Linked DNA regions of Homo sapiens: region 1 is linked to region 2. Evidence: fine-mapped expression QTL. A gene starts in region 2. The other region holds a variant in brackets. All regions are shown on one strand. Distances are from middle to middle. Region 1 holds the start of MIR339 (microRNA 339). Region 2 holds the start of CHLSN (cholesin).

Region 1 (8,335 bases), 110 kb before region 2:
CCCACAACCAACAGCATCGATGTGGTCTTCTTAATGATCAGAAACACACAGGGGATTAATTTACTCTTATTCTGCAAAATAAACAAGCTCTCAAATTCTTTAAAGGTGAATCCCCCCCAACCGTCCTCCCTCCCCAGTTACTTCCTCCCTAGGACACCAGTGGAACATCCCATGCTCTCCCCCTTCCATGTTGATACCGAATAAAACACACTGCATCAGAAGACCCACGCATACGAGTCCAGGGGCTGCTACAAAGCGCGGCGACGTCTCCGCGGCGAGCTGGCCACTCCATGGTCCCGGCGCAGACACTGGGGCAGGCGCCGGCTCTGTCGTCGAGGCGCTCACAGGCAGGCACACGTGAGCTCCTGGAGGACAGGGAGAGCGGCCGCCCCGCCCCTGCGGAGCACAGGACGCTTCCTGCCACCCCTGCAGAGCATGGGACGCTTCCTGCCATGGTGCCGTGGCAATGGGTGGCACCTGCCTGTGGCCCCTTCTCAGAAGGACGTTTTAAACGCGTGAGGTCTGATGCACAGCCACAGGGAGACACAGACGAGCAGATGTGGGCATCCGAGTATTTACAAGGTCTGGTGGCTCCTGCAGCCGCGACACGGGCTGAGCGCAAGTGATGTGTGAGGTGTCCCCAACAGATGGCACGGGGAGCGCCCACACCCGCCACCGCGGGGTCTGCGGAAGCTCGTGTCAGCTGGAGGTTAGGGAAGACGCACAGGGGCTCATTCTCCACCCAGGTTCAAACTCCCTGAACTCACGAGACCCAGGCTGAAGACATGGACAGACTCCCAGCCCCAGCGCCCCTCTGACAGCACACCCGAGGCCTCCTGGGAACCTGGGACCCCTTGCAGGGTCCCCCGCAGGCTCCTTCCTAGGAAGGAGGTTCCTGCCCTACTCCACATTTCTCTCCATCCAACTTCCAACTCCTTCCCACTGGGCCCTGGAGAACATGACGAAGACTGTGGGGGCCTCCTCCCAGGAAACACACACACACACACACACACACACACACACACACACACACACACACACACACCAGCAACGCGCCCAGACCCCAATCCCTGGCAGCCCAACTCCTCGTTCTACAGAGAAGGGGTGAGGATCTCCAGGGGTGACTGCTCACATCTCGGCACATGTAGAAGGCAGGGCTGGAGCAGCGGCCCCTGCAGCCCAGGCCAGGGGACTGGAGGCCCTTCCACAGCAGCCCTTTCCTTTTGATACACGGTCTTGCTCTGTGGCCCAGGCTGGACTGCAGCGGCACCATCACAGTTTACTGCAGCCTCGACCTCCTGGGCTCAAGCAATCCTCCCACCTCAGCCTCCCAAGCAACCAGGACTATAGGCATGTGCCACCATGCCTGGCCAGTTTTTAAATTTTTTATAGAGATAGGACCAAGGCTGCTCTCACACTCCTGAGCTAAAGTGATCCTCCTTGCCGGCCTCCCAAAGTGCTGGGATTATAGGCATGAGTTTTCAAACTCCTGGGCCACAGCGATCCTTCCGGCCAGCCTCAAAGTGCTGGGATTATAGGTGTGAGCCCACGGTGCACAGCCCCCACTTTCTTCCTAAAAACCCTGCAGCTTGGCTGACAGTGGGACCTGCCTCCCTACTCCCGCCTGCAGGAGCTCAGAAGCCTCAGCTCAAGAGGAGCCCTTGCCAGAGACGTGGGACCAGGAATGGGCCCCACAGAGCCCTGCCCGTGGGCTTCCTAAACAGCCTGAGTTCAGCTGCACACACCAACGATGTAGGCGGGTTGCAATAAACAGCAAGAAACGGACCCATGGGACAGGAGAGACGCAGGAGCCCCAGGGGACAAGAGAGACGCAGAAGCCCCAGGTGCCTTTGGTGGCCAGTGCTGAATTTCGCAAGCAACATTAGAAACTTTTTATTTCTGCTTTTCTCTTAACCCAAGGGTGAAAATGGAAACCTGTGGTGTGGGGCAGTCTGCTGAACGCTAGGATGAGGGCGGGGAACAAGAGCCACCCTCCCCGCTGCCACCTGGCCCACAAGAGCCTTCCCAGGGGCTCTCCAGTTTCAGCCCCTCCTTGCCGAGCCAGACAGCGCTGCTGGCCTGGACGGGAGGGACACCCAGGCTGACTGAGTGGGGGAGCACTTTTTATAAAGATCAGATCAGGTTTCTGAAAACAAAAAGCCCCCAGATCCTGCGAGCGGCTATTTAGACTTGATGCACACTCCACCATTTCACAGGTATCCATTCCCCAGCGTCACACATGCCCATCCCCAGCTGGAGCACACTCTTCAGTGTGGAGGACAGAAGGAGCAGGCAGAAGACGACCCCGGGGCGCTGGGGGAGCAGGTGCGGGCTCCCACATACCTGCTCTATTCTGGTTGGAGGTGTCACAAGGGAAGGCGTGGAGATGCTGCCAATGGGGACATGCGGCAAATGCGCCCCCTTCGCCCCACACCTGTCAGCAGCTAGCAACAACTCAGTCCTGACTGCTGGAGACCCAGCCCCAGGGGCAGGCAGGTTGGGATCCGCTGCTCAGGAGGCAGCTCTGGGCCAGGGTGGAGGCCGGAGAAGCCAGGCACCTCCCCGCAGAGCTCTGCAGAGGCCAGTCTGCTAACGGCTTCATCACTGGAGTGGCGGCTGCTAAGAGCAAAGCCTGTGCTTGGTACCTCAGGGACCTAAATAAGAACCACTCCCTGTTCCAAGGATCCCAAGTGGGGGGAGGACGAGAAGCAGCTGAGCCTATAGGGCACAGGAAACTCACTGGGGTGTGGGTGCTGGGGACTTGGGTTGGGTGCTGTACTGAGCAAGCCTGTTGTGGGGGGACACTGCTGGCGGTGGGTGACGAGGTGCACAAGTCAGGTCAGGGAGGGGGACTCTGCCCTGGCACCACTGGGGCACAGGACACTGGCTCAGGTGTCAGCTGAGGACCCCCCAGTGTAGGCGAGGGGCTCACAGCCGCTGAGGCCTGTGGACACAGCTCCGTGTATTCTGAGGTCGCAGAGCACAAGAGGTTGGGGGTGTGATACGGACCGACCTCGCCCATCCAGGAGGAATGGGGCTGGTAACAGAGCTTTGTAACCCCTCAGCACCGGTAGAGGTTGCGTGGCTCCCCAGTGGAGCTGAGGGCTGGCGTTTCTTGCTCTGTATTTCCCTGCGCTCTGGAAACTCCTGCATCACCAGCCTTGGGCCCTTCACTGCCTCCCCTGGGCCTCCAGAGGCAGGCTGGGGTCCTCTCCTTTCTCAGCCTCTGTGGCCAGTGTCTGGCACAGGACAGACACCCACCAGGACGCTGCCTGGGACGGAGGGCTCCCTTCTGCCTCCGGCCAGGTGGGCCCCGCAGCAGCTCAAGCTTCAGCTGCAGTGGAGGGAAGAGTGAACTGCTGGGCAGAAGCAGAAGCAGGCCTCCTGGAACTCGTGACCCCAGATCCCAGAGGCCCTGCCCCCTTGCCACCTCCCAGAATGTTGGCAGGGCCTCTGGGTGATTTTCATCCACATGC[A/G]GGGGTGTCACATAGGCCCCTCGGCTCCAGCTCCCCACTGAACGGCAGCTTTGTATCCACAGGTAGGGCTGGGCGGCTCCAATTTGAACTTAGGCATATGGACGCTGTCTAACGATTCACGACACTCCTCGTTTCTTTCGCTACTATTGGACCAGTTGAGGGTGGAGCCCAGCTGCACCTGGCATTGCTGAAGAGCCCTCGCAGAGCCAGCGCTCCAGCTGCTGGGCGCGCAACAGCTGTCCCGGGAGGCAAGGGTTCGCACGGCAGTGCTTCTGTGTCGACAGAGGCTGTGCTGCAGCTCCCTGCCAGGCCCGTGTCCTTCCTAGCTGTGAGAACACTAACCTGCCTGGGCTTCACCTGTGGAAGCCACCGCTAACTAGCAGTCGGAGGCGGCGTTGTTTCTAAGACAGGCAGGCAGCTCCGGCAGGAGCAGCCGCTAAGCACAAGGACGGCCAACCACACAAAGCCTGCTTCTCAACCACTCGCAGGAAATCGGCTCACAGTTGCTCCCCATTCTTCAATGCTGATCCTGCCACTTTACTGAAAATCACATTATTAACGTTTAAAAAACGTATGGGAACCATGCAAAGACATCCACGCCCCTCAGTTGCTGCCGCTCCAGCACCTGGCTCCGAAGTCTGTGCAGAAGGCGAGGCTCCCGTAGTGCTCGAGAGGGCCTTGCACGCTCCCCGTGGAGGGAACAAAGCTACGTGGATTTTCCAGCGCGCCGCCCACTTCACCAGGCAGCCTCTGGGCTTCATCCTGCTCGCGTGACAGGTGTGCTCTGTGCTGTCAGGAAACTGCAGGGCTTTGAGTATAAACTGAAAACAGCAAAACTATGTTCTCATCTCAGAGGCCCCTTCCTTCTCACCCCGAGGTCACCTGGGCCCGGAGACACAGCACCCGCCGTGCAGGAGCCTGGAAGATGTTTGAGCAACGAGAAAAAAACCAGAACATGTTACCGCCTCTAAAATGAGGAAATGGCAGGATCAAAATTAAATGTCCGTGAAGTGTATCATCATGTCAATTTTGTTAGTTGTTACACATAGTTTAAAACACTCACATCTGGGAACTAAGTACGGGTTAGGTTTTCTCACTTTGCCACAACTCCTCAGTGAACACAACGAATTCATAAAAATCACTGTCAATTCGGTGAGTTACTCATAAGCAAAGGACTCTGAAGCAACGGTCACCATTCCCGCCGTCTCTGCAGCCGTGAGGCCCAGCAGCAGGCTAGGCAGCCCGGTTCGCGTGTCCGTGCGGACGCCTGGTCCACGGCCCCCGGCTGTGCGCGCAGCAGCTGAGGACGCTCCGAGGACACAGCGCAGGACCAGCACGGGGCCGCCACCTGCCCGGGCCACCGCCTCCTCAGAAGATAAAAGACCTACTCCAAGCACCTCTGCGCTCTCCAACCCAAACCCGGCTGAGCCCCGACGCAGCAGCGGCAGAGCCTCTTGAAGGAGCTGCCGGCCTGCTCCGCCGTCCTCAGGAAGGCTCCCGAGTGAAGCTATCCCAATTGTTTTCATCATGAGTCTTTGCTTTAGTTGACACAGCTTCGCACTAGCACCCACCGCGCCAGTGGGGGCCGCCTTGCCTCAGGCAAGAAAGCCCCTGGCTTCCGAGCGCCCGACGGGGTCCTCTACCCCGGCACAGGGAGGGGCGAGGCGGCGCTGCGGGCGACACAGGCCCTCTCAAGGGTCACGCGGCGGCCGACGACTCCAGCCCACCCAGGGTCCTCAGAGCTCGTGTCTCCCCCGGGGGCTGCTGCATCGCGGCTGGGGGCCCGGTCCGCCCCCACAGCGCAGGGGAGCCTGGCCGGTTGCGGGGCCGCTCGAGGGCTCGCAGTGCCTGCAGGGCCTGGACCCCCACCCTGCCACCCGCGGCCCGGCCCTGCGCCCCCAGGAGAGTAAGTGGGAGGAGGGCGCGGGACCGTCCAGGGCCTGCTCGGGGACCGGCGCGCAGCGGAGCCCCGAGAAGCGCGGCTCGGCCGGCCCGGGGTCTGCAGGGCGGAGCGGGGCCCGCAGCAGCGTCTGGACGCCACGGCCTCCCACGGGAGCGCCCACCTGTCGCCGCGGGGCGGGGCTGGGGCAGGGCCCCTCCCATCCCCTCCCTGCAGCCCGAATGCGGGCCCTGGCCCCGCGCACTGACCTCTGACCCGGCTGTCAGGTCCCGCGGGCACGGACGGCGCCGGGGCAGGGATGCGCCCGCAGTGCGCACCGCCCGGCCCGCGCCTCCAGCAGCCTCAGCGCCTCCACACTGCGCATGCCCGGCCGGCCCGGCGCGGCTGGAACCAGATCCAGCCGGCTGGACCGTGACGCCAGCGCGCCTGCGGGGACTGGACCTCGGCGCGGGGGTGGGAGAGCCGGGGCGGGGCCTCGGCGCTGAGAAGGCGGGGGTGGACCCTGCTGCAGCCCCCACTGCTCCTCCGACGAGGCTCTCTGGCCGCCCGGGTCTCCGGTCCACCTGCGCGAACTGCGGGGAGGGCGCACCCCCGCCCGCGCAGGGCCCCTGCCAGCTGCACGTACTTGCCTCTGACCGCCCCCACCCAGCCCCTATCGTCCCCCTACTTCCCTCATCTCCCCCATCTGCCTCCATTATCCTCTCATCTCCCCCAATCTGCCCCCATAGACCCATCTCCCCCAGTCTGTCCCCATCTCCCCTAGTCTGCCGCCATCTGTCCCTATCGCTCCCCCAATCTGACTCCATGGCCCCCATCTCCTCCAGTCTACCCCCATCTTCCCAGTCTGCCATCTCCCCAATCTGCCCCATCTCTCCCCAGTCTGACTCCATGTCCCCCCATCTCCCCCAGTCTGCCCCCATCTCCCCTGCCCAGGCCCTGCAGGCAGAGGCCTAGCCCTCCCATGGCATCCACGTGTCCAGCAAAGGGGAGGTGCTCAATACCGGCTGGCTGAATACGTGGATGAGTCACGCAGCCTTTTCCTCACCACACAGAGGGCGTCTAGATCTCTTCTGGCTTGTGAGTTCCCTGCCCTGGGACTAAGACTGCAGATCAGTTTTTTTGCTTGTTTGTTTTTGGAGATAGGGTCTTGCTCTGTCGCCCAGGCCAGAGTGCAGTGGCACCATTGTAGCTCACTGCAGCCTTAACTTCCTGGGCTCAAGTGATTTTCCCACCTTGGCCTTCCGAGTAGCTGGGACCACAGGAGTGCACCACTGTGTCCAGCTAATTTTTAAATTTTTTGTAGAGACAGGGTCTCACTACGTTGCCCAGGCTGTTCACGAACTCCTGGGCCCAAGTGATCTTCCTGCCTCGGCCTCCCAAAGTACGGGGATTACAGGTGCGCCACCATGCCCAGCCTAATTTTTAATTTTTGGAGAGATGGGGTCTCACTATGTTGCCTGGCATAGGAGGCTGGAACTCCTGGACTCATGTGATTCTCCTGCCTTGGCCTCCTAAAGCACTGACTGGGATTACAAGCATGCACCACGGTGCCTGCCTTGCAGATCAATTTTATGGTGCGAGGGAGCCGCACTGGCCACCCAGAGCACAGTGAGCCCGGAGGCTGGGCCGGTTCCAGGGCGAGGAGAGGCTTAGACTCCCTCTCAAGGCGTCAGGGTCCAGGACACACTGAGCTCTGGTCGCGGGGCCCTGCTCTGGAGGCCACCCCTGCCTGGGGAGATGGTGTGGGCACCCCAGTCCCCCGCTGAATAAGGATCTGCAAGGCCGGAGTCAGGCCTGGGGCTGGCTGTTTTCCTCCTAGCTGTTTCACCATCTCCAGGCCTGTTCCCATGCAGAGGCCTGCTCTGTGGTGGCAGCGGGGCAGGCAAGGGTGGACTGGAGGCCTCCTGGAGCTGGTGGACACGAGGAGGCCAGGAAGGGATGTCCTGCCCACTGCCTGCAGCGGCTATGCAGCAGTGCTTCCGATTTAGTGTCTCTGCCACTGGTGTCCGCACCCCGCTTTCAGAGAAGGAAGTGTGTGCTCAGTCACCGGTTTCATGGGAGGGACTCAATTCTGGGCCTTCTGAGCCCCAGTGGCCTTGTGTGCTGACTCCCCAGTGTGTCCCCAGCATGAATGCGCCAGCCCACACAGTCACCTGCCTCCATGAACGCGCCAACTCCGCGCATCCACCTGTCTTCCCGAACGCAACGACCCACGCATCCACCCACCTCCATAAACGCGCCAATCCTGCTCATATGCCGTCTTCACCAACGCACCAACTCGCACAGCCACCCGCCTCCACACCTGAGCCCGGGGACCAGGTTTCTTCTCCCCGTAGTTCTGTGCTGGTGGCTCTGGGCTGCTTTGGGAGACAAGGACAAGAGCAGGAGCGGGAGAAGCTGGCCTGGCAGTGGGGTGCAGTCCCCCGGGCTGGGCCACTAGCCCCACAGGGATGGGGACGTGGTGCCGGCTGAGGACCCAGGGGCTTCACTCCACTCCATCTCACGCTTCCAGCTACCCTGCTCTTTGCACTTCACAGAGGGGGAACCAAGCCCAGCAAAGGTGGACACATACCAGCTGCTATGCCTTCCTAGGTCCTGCCCAGTGACCCACCTGTAGGGCTGTGCTGTCCCCAGACCCATGAAGGCACACATAGGCTTGTGGCTTTGGGCAGGTGGGACTCTCTCCCCAGGCAGGCGGGGACTCTCTCTCTCCCGGGGCAGGGGGGGACTCTCTCTCTCTCCCGGGGCACGCGGGGACTCTCTCTCTCTCCCCGGGCAGGTGGGACTCTCTGGGCAGGTGGGGCTCTCTCTGGGCAGGTGCCACCATGCCTGCTTTCCCACAGCCCACACCCCGGGCCCCAACACAGAGCAGCAGGTGCAAGGCTGCTTACTGCACCGGCACATCCAACCACCTCCACAAACGCACCAGTCCATGCATCCACCCAGGCTGAGCTAAGGG
Region 2 (8,335 bases):
TCCCATTGCCAACTCTCAGTATGCAACTTATTTGACCTAACAGCGTTGGACTGTTGATCCTTCCTTCTCTCTTGACAGGCATTTTTCACTTGGCATCCAGCACAGACAGCAGAACTTCTGCTTTTGCTCCCACCTCTTAATCGCCGTGTCCTTGAACACTGAAGGACCCAGGCTTAGTGCTCAGCCTCCTCACTCCCTCGTGATCCCATTCAGTCATGTGGCTTCAAATACCAACTAGACGCTGATGACTTTGTTTCCTCTCTTTACAGTCTCTTATTAACCCTCTCCTTCAACTACACGCCAACTCAACTGTGTATATATATAGCTATAGTTGTATGTATATACATATAGTTATATATATATACATGGTCATATATGTGTACCTAGACATATATACACATATATATACTTGAACTCCTGACCTCTGTTTACACTGTTTATACACATATATCTACATGTGTGTATATATATGTATGTGTATGGCCGGGCACGGTGGCTCACGCCTGTAATCCCAGCACTTTGGGAGGCCGAGGCGGGGAGATCACTTGAGGTCAGGAGTTTGAGACCAGCCTGGCTAACATGGTGAAACCCCATCTTTACTGAAAACACAAAAATTAGCTGGGTGTGCTGGCACCTGCCTGTAAACCCAGCTACTCGGGAGGCTGAGGCAGGAGAATCGTTTGAATACGAGGTGGAGGTTGCAGTGAGCCGAGATCGCGCCACTGCACTCCAGCCTGGACAACAGAGTGAGACTCCACCTCAAAAAGAAATATATATATATATATATATACACAATTTATTTATTTATTTATATAAAATAAATATATAAATATATTTACATAAATATGTATTTATATAAATATATAAAAATATATATGAATATATAAATATATAAGTATATATAAAAATATATATAAGTATATATAAATATATAAGTATATATAAATATATATAAATATATATAAGTATATATAAATATATAAGCATATATAAATATATATATAAAATATATATGTATATATAAATATATGTATAAATATATAAGTATATATAAATATATATAAATATAAGTATATATAAATTTATATAAATGTGTATATAAATATATATACATAAATATATATAAATATATACATAAATATATAAATATATATACATAAATATGTATAAATATACATAATTATAAATATATACACAAATATATAAATATATATAAACATATATAAATATATAAAATATATATAAATATATATAAACATATATAAATATATAAAATATATATAAATATATATAAACATATATAAATATATATAAACATAAATATATAAATATATAAACATATAAATATATATAAACATATATATAAATATATATAAATATATAAACATATATATAAATATATATAAACATATATATAAATATATATAAACATATATATAAATATATATAAACATATATAAACATATATAAATATATAAACATATATAAACATATAAATATATATAAACATATATAAATATATATAAACATATATATGAACATATATAAACATATATAAACATATAAACATAAACATATATAAACATATATAAACATATATAAATATATATAAATATATAAAAATAAATATATATATGCGGATGTGTGTATAAACTGTGTATATATATAACTATATATATAACCATATATATGTACTTATATATATCATCTACACATATATCATCTCAAGCTTAAGAATTCGTAATCAATACCCCTGATCACCCTCCACAAACCTGAGCTTCCTAGTGTTCATCCTCTCCATAAACATCCATCTGATGAGGTTCACATAGTAGCTCAAGCTTAAAACCTTGGTCCATCCATAAATCCTCTCTTTCTCACATACTCGTCCAACCCACCACAAACTCCTGTTGGTTTACCACTGAAATACACCCAGAATGTGACTCCCTTAAGATCCCATAGGTACCCAGTCCAAGCCACCACCTCTCACGATGGCTTTTAAACTCCTAAATCAGATGGTGTGTCACCTCCACTCAAAAAACTTCCCAAGCTGTCCCCTTCCACTTGGAGGGAAAGTCAAGGTCCTTGCCACTTGGTAAGGTCCACACGACTGCCCTGGCCCCTCCTCGCATCTCTGGGAACTCACCTCCTCTTTCTCTCTCTGTTCCCAAATTGGCTGCAGCCACACTGGGCTCCCTGCTGTTTCCCCTGCACCTGCTGTTTCCTCGACCTGGAATGTTCTGGTGCCTCACTCCTCCTCCTGCTTCCTTTCCATTCTCAAAACCCCTGTTCTCATCTTCTCCATGGCACTTACCATCACCTGCTCTGTGCACCTTGTTCATCTGTCTCTCCCCTCCAGAATGGAAGTTCACTAGATCACAGACTTGTCTCCACTTGTTGACAGCTGTAGCCCAATGCCCCGAACAGTGCAGGAGGAACCCAATGAACGTTTTTTAAAAATGAATGAATGAATGACGGAAGGAAGGAAACGGAAAGCATGCTTATGATGGAAAGTGAGGCCAAGCGCGTTGGCTCACTCCTGTAATCCCAGCACTTTGGGAGGCCGAGGCAGGAGGATCCATCGCTTGAGCCCAAGAATTCGAGACCAGCCTGGGTAACATGGTGAGACCCCATTTCTACAAAAAACATTTTTAAAAATTATCCGGGTGTGGTGGCGCGCGCATGTGGTCCCAGCTACTTGGGAGGATGAGGCGGGAGGACGGCTTGAGCCCAGGAGGTGGAGGCTGCAGTGAGCTATGATCACGCCATTGCACTCCAGCCTGGGTGGCACAGCGAGACACTGCCTCAAAAATTGAAAAAGAGAAAGTGGGAGCTGAAAGCCTCGGAGGGCAATCAGGGCGTCTTCAGAGAAAGACAATGAAACCAGAGCCACTGCAAGCCCTGACGGCCTGAAACCTAGGAGCCAGCTGAGTCCCTTCCACTCGCCCGCGCTGAGTTAACCCAGAGGCGGGTGCGGGTGTCGGAGCCCGCGCCGGGACGCACCGGCCGCACCGGCCGCACCAGCCTCCCCAGCACCGCGGACCCCAGGGCCGCCGCCCGGTCGCGCCGCGCCGGGCCTCCGCGCACCCACGTGGAGGGGGCGGAGCCCCGCGGGAGCCCGCCCCGGGGCTCTGGGTCTCCTGGCGCCCTGACCCGCCGGCCACCCCGCCGCCGCCCCACGCGCCTACCTGCGCCCACCTGCGCCCACGTCGCCCACCTAAGCGTGAACAGCTGCGTCGCGGACGCCGCCTTCCGGCAGGGACCCGCGCCCCAGGTAAGCGTTAGTCCCGCCTTCAGGAGTGCGGAGCCTCCCATTGGACGAGGTCTGCGTCCGTCTCTCCGCCGGCTAATGGCAAGCGGCGGCAGCACGGGGGGCGGTTCCAGGACCGGGCGCGGGCTACTGACGCCATCTCTAGAGGCCTAGAGTTGCTTGGAGAGGAGCTGGTTGCCAAGGCAACCCGCCCTGCCCAGAACAAGTGCAGATGACTAGGTTTGGGCCCCGCAGGGCTTGGGGGTCTGGGGTGCAAGCTGCCCCGGCCGGGCTGGCGTCCCGGGGTGGGGCCTCCGCCGAGGGTCCAGGGTATGGAGCTCGGCTCGGAGTCGAAATGGATGAGCTACGGCTATTGGGATCAACAGGGCTAGGACTTAAACTTCGTGCTGAATTTAAAAAATCAGGATAGGTGCTAAAAAATACACAGGGTGGGTAGTGTTATAATAATGCTTGTGTCCGGGAGCGGTGACTCACGCCTGTGATCCCAGCATTTTGGGAGGCCCAGGCGGGCGGATCGCTTGAGCTCAGGAGTTCGAGACCCGCCTGGCCAACATGACGAAACCCCGTAACCCCGTCTCTGCTAAAAATACAAAAATTAGCCAGGCGTGGTGGCAGGTGCCTGTAATCCCAGCTACTCGGGAGGCTGAGGCAGGAAAATCGTTTAAGCCCGGGAGGTGGAGGTTGCAGTGAGCCGAGATCGTGCCACTGCACTCCAGCCTGGGCGACAGAATGAGACTCTGTTTTAAAAAATAAAAAATAAATTAAAAAAATAAAAATTAGCCGGGTATGGTGGCACGTGCCTGTAGTTCCTGATACTCTGGACGCTGAGGTGGGAGGATCGCTGGAGCCTGGGAGATGGAGGCTGCAGTGAGCTATGATCAAGGCACTGCACTCCAGCCTGGGCAACAGAGCCAGACCCCGTCTAAAAAAAAAAAAGAAAAAAAAGCATGCTTTCAAGTCACCCAGTAAGTTAAGTGCTTGGCAGCCGTATCAAGTATGATGTACGTTGCCTCAGGAATCCAAAGGTGACAAGCAAAGAAGGTGCACTCTTCCTTACTGGTAGAAGATTGTATTTGGTTCCTTTTTCTGCATAACAAATTAACCCAACATTTAGCAGCCTAAAAGAACATTTATTTTTTCATGGTATCCGCGGTCAGGAAAGTGGGCGTGGCTAAGCTCTGTGCCTTTGCCTCAAGGGTTCACCAAGTTGTGGTCAAGGTGTCCCCCCAGGGTTGTGGTTTCATCGGAAAGCTTATCTGGAATGATCCACTCCCAAGCTCACACACACGGATATTGTAAGGACTCAGTCCTCCAAGGTCATTAGAGAAGGGCCTCAGCCTTGCTGGCTGCTGCCCAAAGGCCACCCTCAGTTCCTTGGTACATGGGCCTTACCACAAGGAAGCTCACAACACTGCAGCTGGCTTGCCTTAGACGGTGCAAGCACACACAAGAGGAGGCACACACAAGACGCACATCACAGTCTCCTTGCACCCTAATCTCAGAAGTGACTTCCCTAGGCTTTTGCCATATTCTGTTCATTAGAAGTCGGCCGGGTGCGGTGGCTCACACCTGTAATCCCAGCACTTTGGGAGGCTGAGGTGGATGGATCACTTGAAGTCAGGAGTTCAACACCAGCCTGGCCAACGTGGCAAAACTCCATCTCTACTAAAAATACAAAAATTAGCCAGGCATGGTGGCATGTACCTATAATCCCAGCTACTCAGGAGGCTGAGGCATCAGAACCTATTGAACCCGGGAGGCAGAGGTTGCAATGAGCTGAGACCGCGCCACTGCACTCCAGCCTGGGCGACAGAGCAAGACTCCAGCTCAAAAAAAAAAAAAAAAAAAAAGTGAATCATGGCCAGGTGCAGTGACTCAGGCCTGTAATCCCAGCTCTTTGGGAGGCTGAGTCAGGAGGATGGATGGACACCAGGAGTTCAAGACCAGCCTGGGCAAACAGTAAGACCTCATGTCTACAAAAATAAAAATAGAAAATTAGCTGGGTGTGGTGGTGCACGCATATAGTCCCAGCTACTTAGGAGGCTGAGGTGGAAGGATTGCTTGAGCCTGGAAGATGGAGGCTGCAGTGAACTATGATCACACCACTGCACTCCAGCCTGGGTGAAAAAAAAAAAGGAAAAAAGGAAAATAATTTTTTTTCATTTTTATTTTTGGAAATTGATATGGTTTGGCTGTGTCCCCACCCAAATCTCATCTTGAATTGTATCTCCCATAATTCCCATGCATTGTGGGAGGGACCTGGTGGGACATAATTGAATCATGGGGGCAGTTTCCCCCATACTGTTCTCTTGGTAGTGAGTAAGTCTCATGAGATCTGATGGTTTGATAAGGGGAAACCCCTTTTGCTTGGTTCTCATTTTCTCTCATCTGTTGCCATGTAAGATGTGCCTTTTGCCTTCCGCCAAGACTGAGAGGCCTCCCCAGCCATGTGGAACTGTGAGTCCATTCAACTTCTTTTTATTTATAAATTACCAGTCTCAGGTATGTCTGAATAGCAGTGTGAATACTGACTAATACAGAAATGCTGAAAGGACTTGGATGCAATGACATCCCAGTGGCACTGAGCACTCCTGGCACCCAGAACACTGCTCCTAAATACCATCCCCCATGAATACGGACCAGGGCTCCTGGGAGAAATGGCTGATCCCAGGGCTGTGGCAGGGAGAGCTCAAGATGGGCCTTGAATAGGTAAATCTGAACATCCTTTACAAGATAGCCTTGTAAGGCTCTCTGGGGTCATCTTCACACATTCTCAGGCGATACCCTTGTCAGGCTATCTAGGGTCATCCTCACATACTCTCACGTCATGTCTGGCACCCGTCTTTCTTGGTTGTTGAGTCTTCCAAGAACAAGGACTGTCTTTCCATTGATTTGCATCTACTATTGTACCTTTCATGAAACACACATTTTTCTCTTTTCTTCCCAAAATAATACTTCATGAATCATGTTTTAAAGTTTTATCCAATATAGGTCTTACGTATGTCCTAAGTTTATTCCTATGTGTTTTATCTTTATTACCATTGTAAATGGAGTTTTCCTCTTCCATTACATCTTCTGATTATTGTTTGTGTGAATGAAGGTTTTTGATCCTGTGTGTTGGTTTTATATCCTATTATCTTAACTAGGTTCTTTTATTGTTTGAGGAGGTATGCAAGTTTTATAATATTAAGGAGTTATATCACTCATTTCCTACTTTATTGAACACTAAATCATTGACACCTGAGATATGAAACTTTTTTTTTTGAGACAGTCTTGCTGTGTTGCCCAGGCTGGAGTGCAGTGGTACGATCTCGAGTCACTGCAGCCTCCACATCATGGGCTCAAGCAATTCTCCTGCCTCGGCCTCCTGAGAAGCTGGAACTACAGGCGCCCACCACCATGCCTGGCTAATTTTTGTATTTTTAGTAGAGACAGGATTTCACCATGTCAGTCAGGCTGGTCTCAAACTCCTGACTTCAGTGATCTCTCCACCTCCGCCTTCCAAAGTGCTGGGATTACAGCTGTGAGCCATCGTGCCTGGCCGTTACTAGCTGTTTTAATAAGACCATGAACCACAGCTGATCAACCCAACTGTTGCAAAATACTCTTAACCATCTCCCAAGGATCTCTGGCCCTCAAATTGGATTAAGTTGGCTTTTCTCGTTTACAGCAAAGCTTAAAGTGATACCATTTTCTCCACGGTATCTTTCTTCCTACAAACTTCATCTCACACCTTGGATGCTTGTTGTCTGTTTATGCTAGATTCAGTATCTGATGCATCTGGTGTTGCAGAACACTGCATGTGCAGCACTCAGTTCAGCTGTATTCTTGGTAGGCCGTGGAAGGCCAAGACTGGTTGGGTTTCTGACACCTGAACAAGTTTAGGAATCACTGCTTCAGACAGAACTTCCAAGATTTACCGCCAAGAGACCCAGCTGTGTAGCACGATGGAAGATAGGCTTGGCTCCCGCAGAACAGGGAATCAGAGGCTGCGAGTGATGGACAAAGCGTGGGTGCCACAGAAGTCCTGGGGAAATGGGCGAACACCCAGCCAAACGACTGGCCCAAATCACCCCTGCAAACGATCACACTGCTCAGCACTGTGTGCGCTGACCCCGGCTTGTTGAACAGCCGATTTTATCTAGAATCTCATCAACTTTTTACCCAATTGCCATAGAAACAGTAACCTTTCTAATTGCCCTCATTCTCCAGGGACTGTTTAAGTGAAACCAGAAGAGGGAAACGCTGGTCCTCTGAGTGGACTGCTGTTTCATTTTTTTCTTAAGATTCACCACAGCACAACTATCTGCAAAAATAGCTTCAGTGTGGAACGAAACATCCAGAATGAAAAATTACAGAGCTGCTCTAAAAAGCTTTTTTTTTTTTTTGGAGACAGAGTCTCGCCCTGTCGCTCAGACTGGACTGCAATGGCACGATCTCAGCTCACTGCAACCTCCACCTCCCAGGTTCAAGCGATTCTCCTGCCTCAGCCTCCCGAGTAGCTGGGATTACAGGCACGTGCCAACACGCCTGGCTAAATTTTTTTGTATCTTTAGTCGAGACGGGGGTTTCAACATGTTGGCCAGGCTGGTCTCGAACTCCTGACCTCGCGATCCGCCCACCTCGGCCTCCCAAAGTGCTGGGATTACAGGAGTGAGCCACTGCGCCCGGCCAAAAAAGGCCATTTTAAAAGGCATTTCTTGCAGCATCGATTGCAAGAAAATCTTAGCTTTTAATGTGTTCTAAGATGATGTCATAATGTAGCTCAGGAGTGGGTGCAGCCTCAACACTGCATGTCAGCAGAGCCTCCCCATCCCGATGTCGGAACAATGTGAGGTAGAAATCAAAGAACAACATCCTCAAACAAAAGAAATGAAAAACAGGGCCGGGCACTCACACCTGTAATCCCAGCACTTTGGGAGGCTGAGGTGGGAGGATCACTTGAACCCAGGAGTTAGAGACCAGCCTGGGCAACATAGCAAGATCCCACCTCTACAAAAAAAATTAAAAATTACCAGGGCATCGTGGCATGCACCTGTGGTCCCAGCTACTTGGGAGGCTGAGGTG

The links. PIP is the estimated chance that this variant, and not a neighbour inherited with it, causes the effect.
Region 1: its variant is fine-mapped to the expression of CHLSN in blood mononuclear cells (TOPMed, PIP above 0.99). The same link has a PIP of 0.9 or more in lymphoblastoid cells.

The regions. Positions count from the first base shown.
Region 1 is chr7:1,022,634-1,030,968 of GRCh38, forward strand. All of the region lies in intron 2 of CHLSN (cholesin), which reads right to left. It overlaps MIR339 (microRNA 339), which reads right to left and starts at 393; the gene lies at 300-393. RefSeq lists enhancers at 504-1,061, 4,912-5,646, 5,647-6,380 and silencers at 5,124-5,333, 5,364-6,143, 8,033-8,132, 8,193-8,322. The variant A/G (reference allele first, on the strand shown) is at 3,477.
Region 2 is chr7:1,135,004-1,143,338 of GRCh38, forward strand. It overlaps CHLSN (cholesin), which reads right to left and starts at 3,244. Exons shown (of 5, transcript NM_001318252.2): 1 at 2,312-3,244. RefSeq lists silencers at 2,804-2,853, 2,864-3,313, 3,514-3,653 and an enhancer at 3,374-3,473.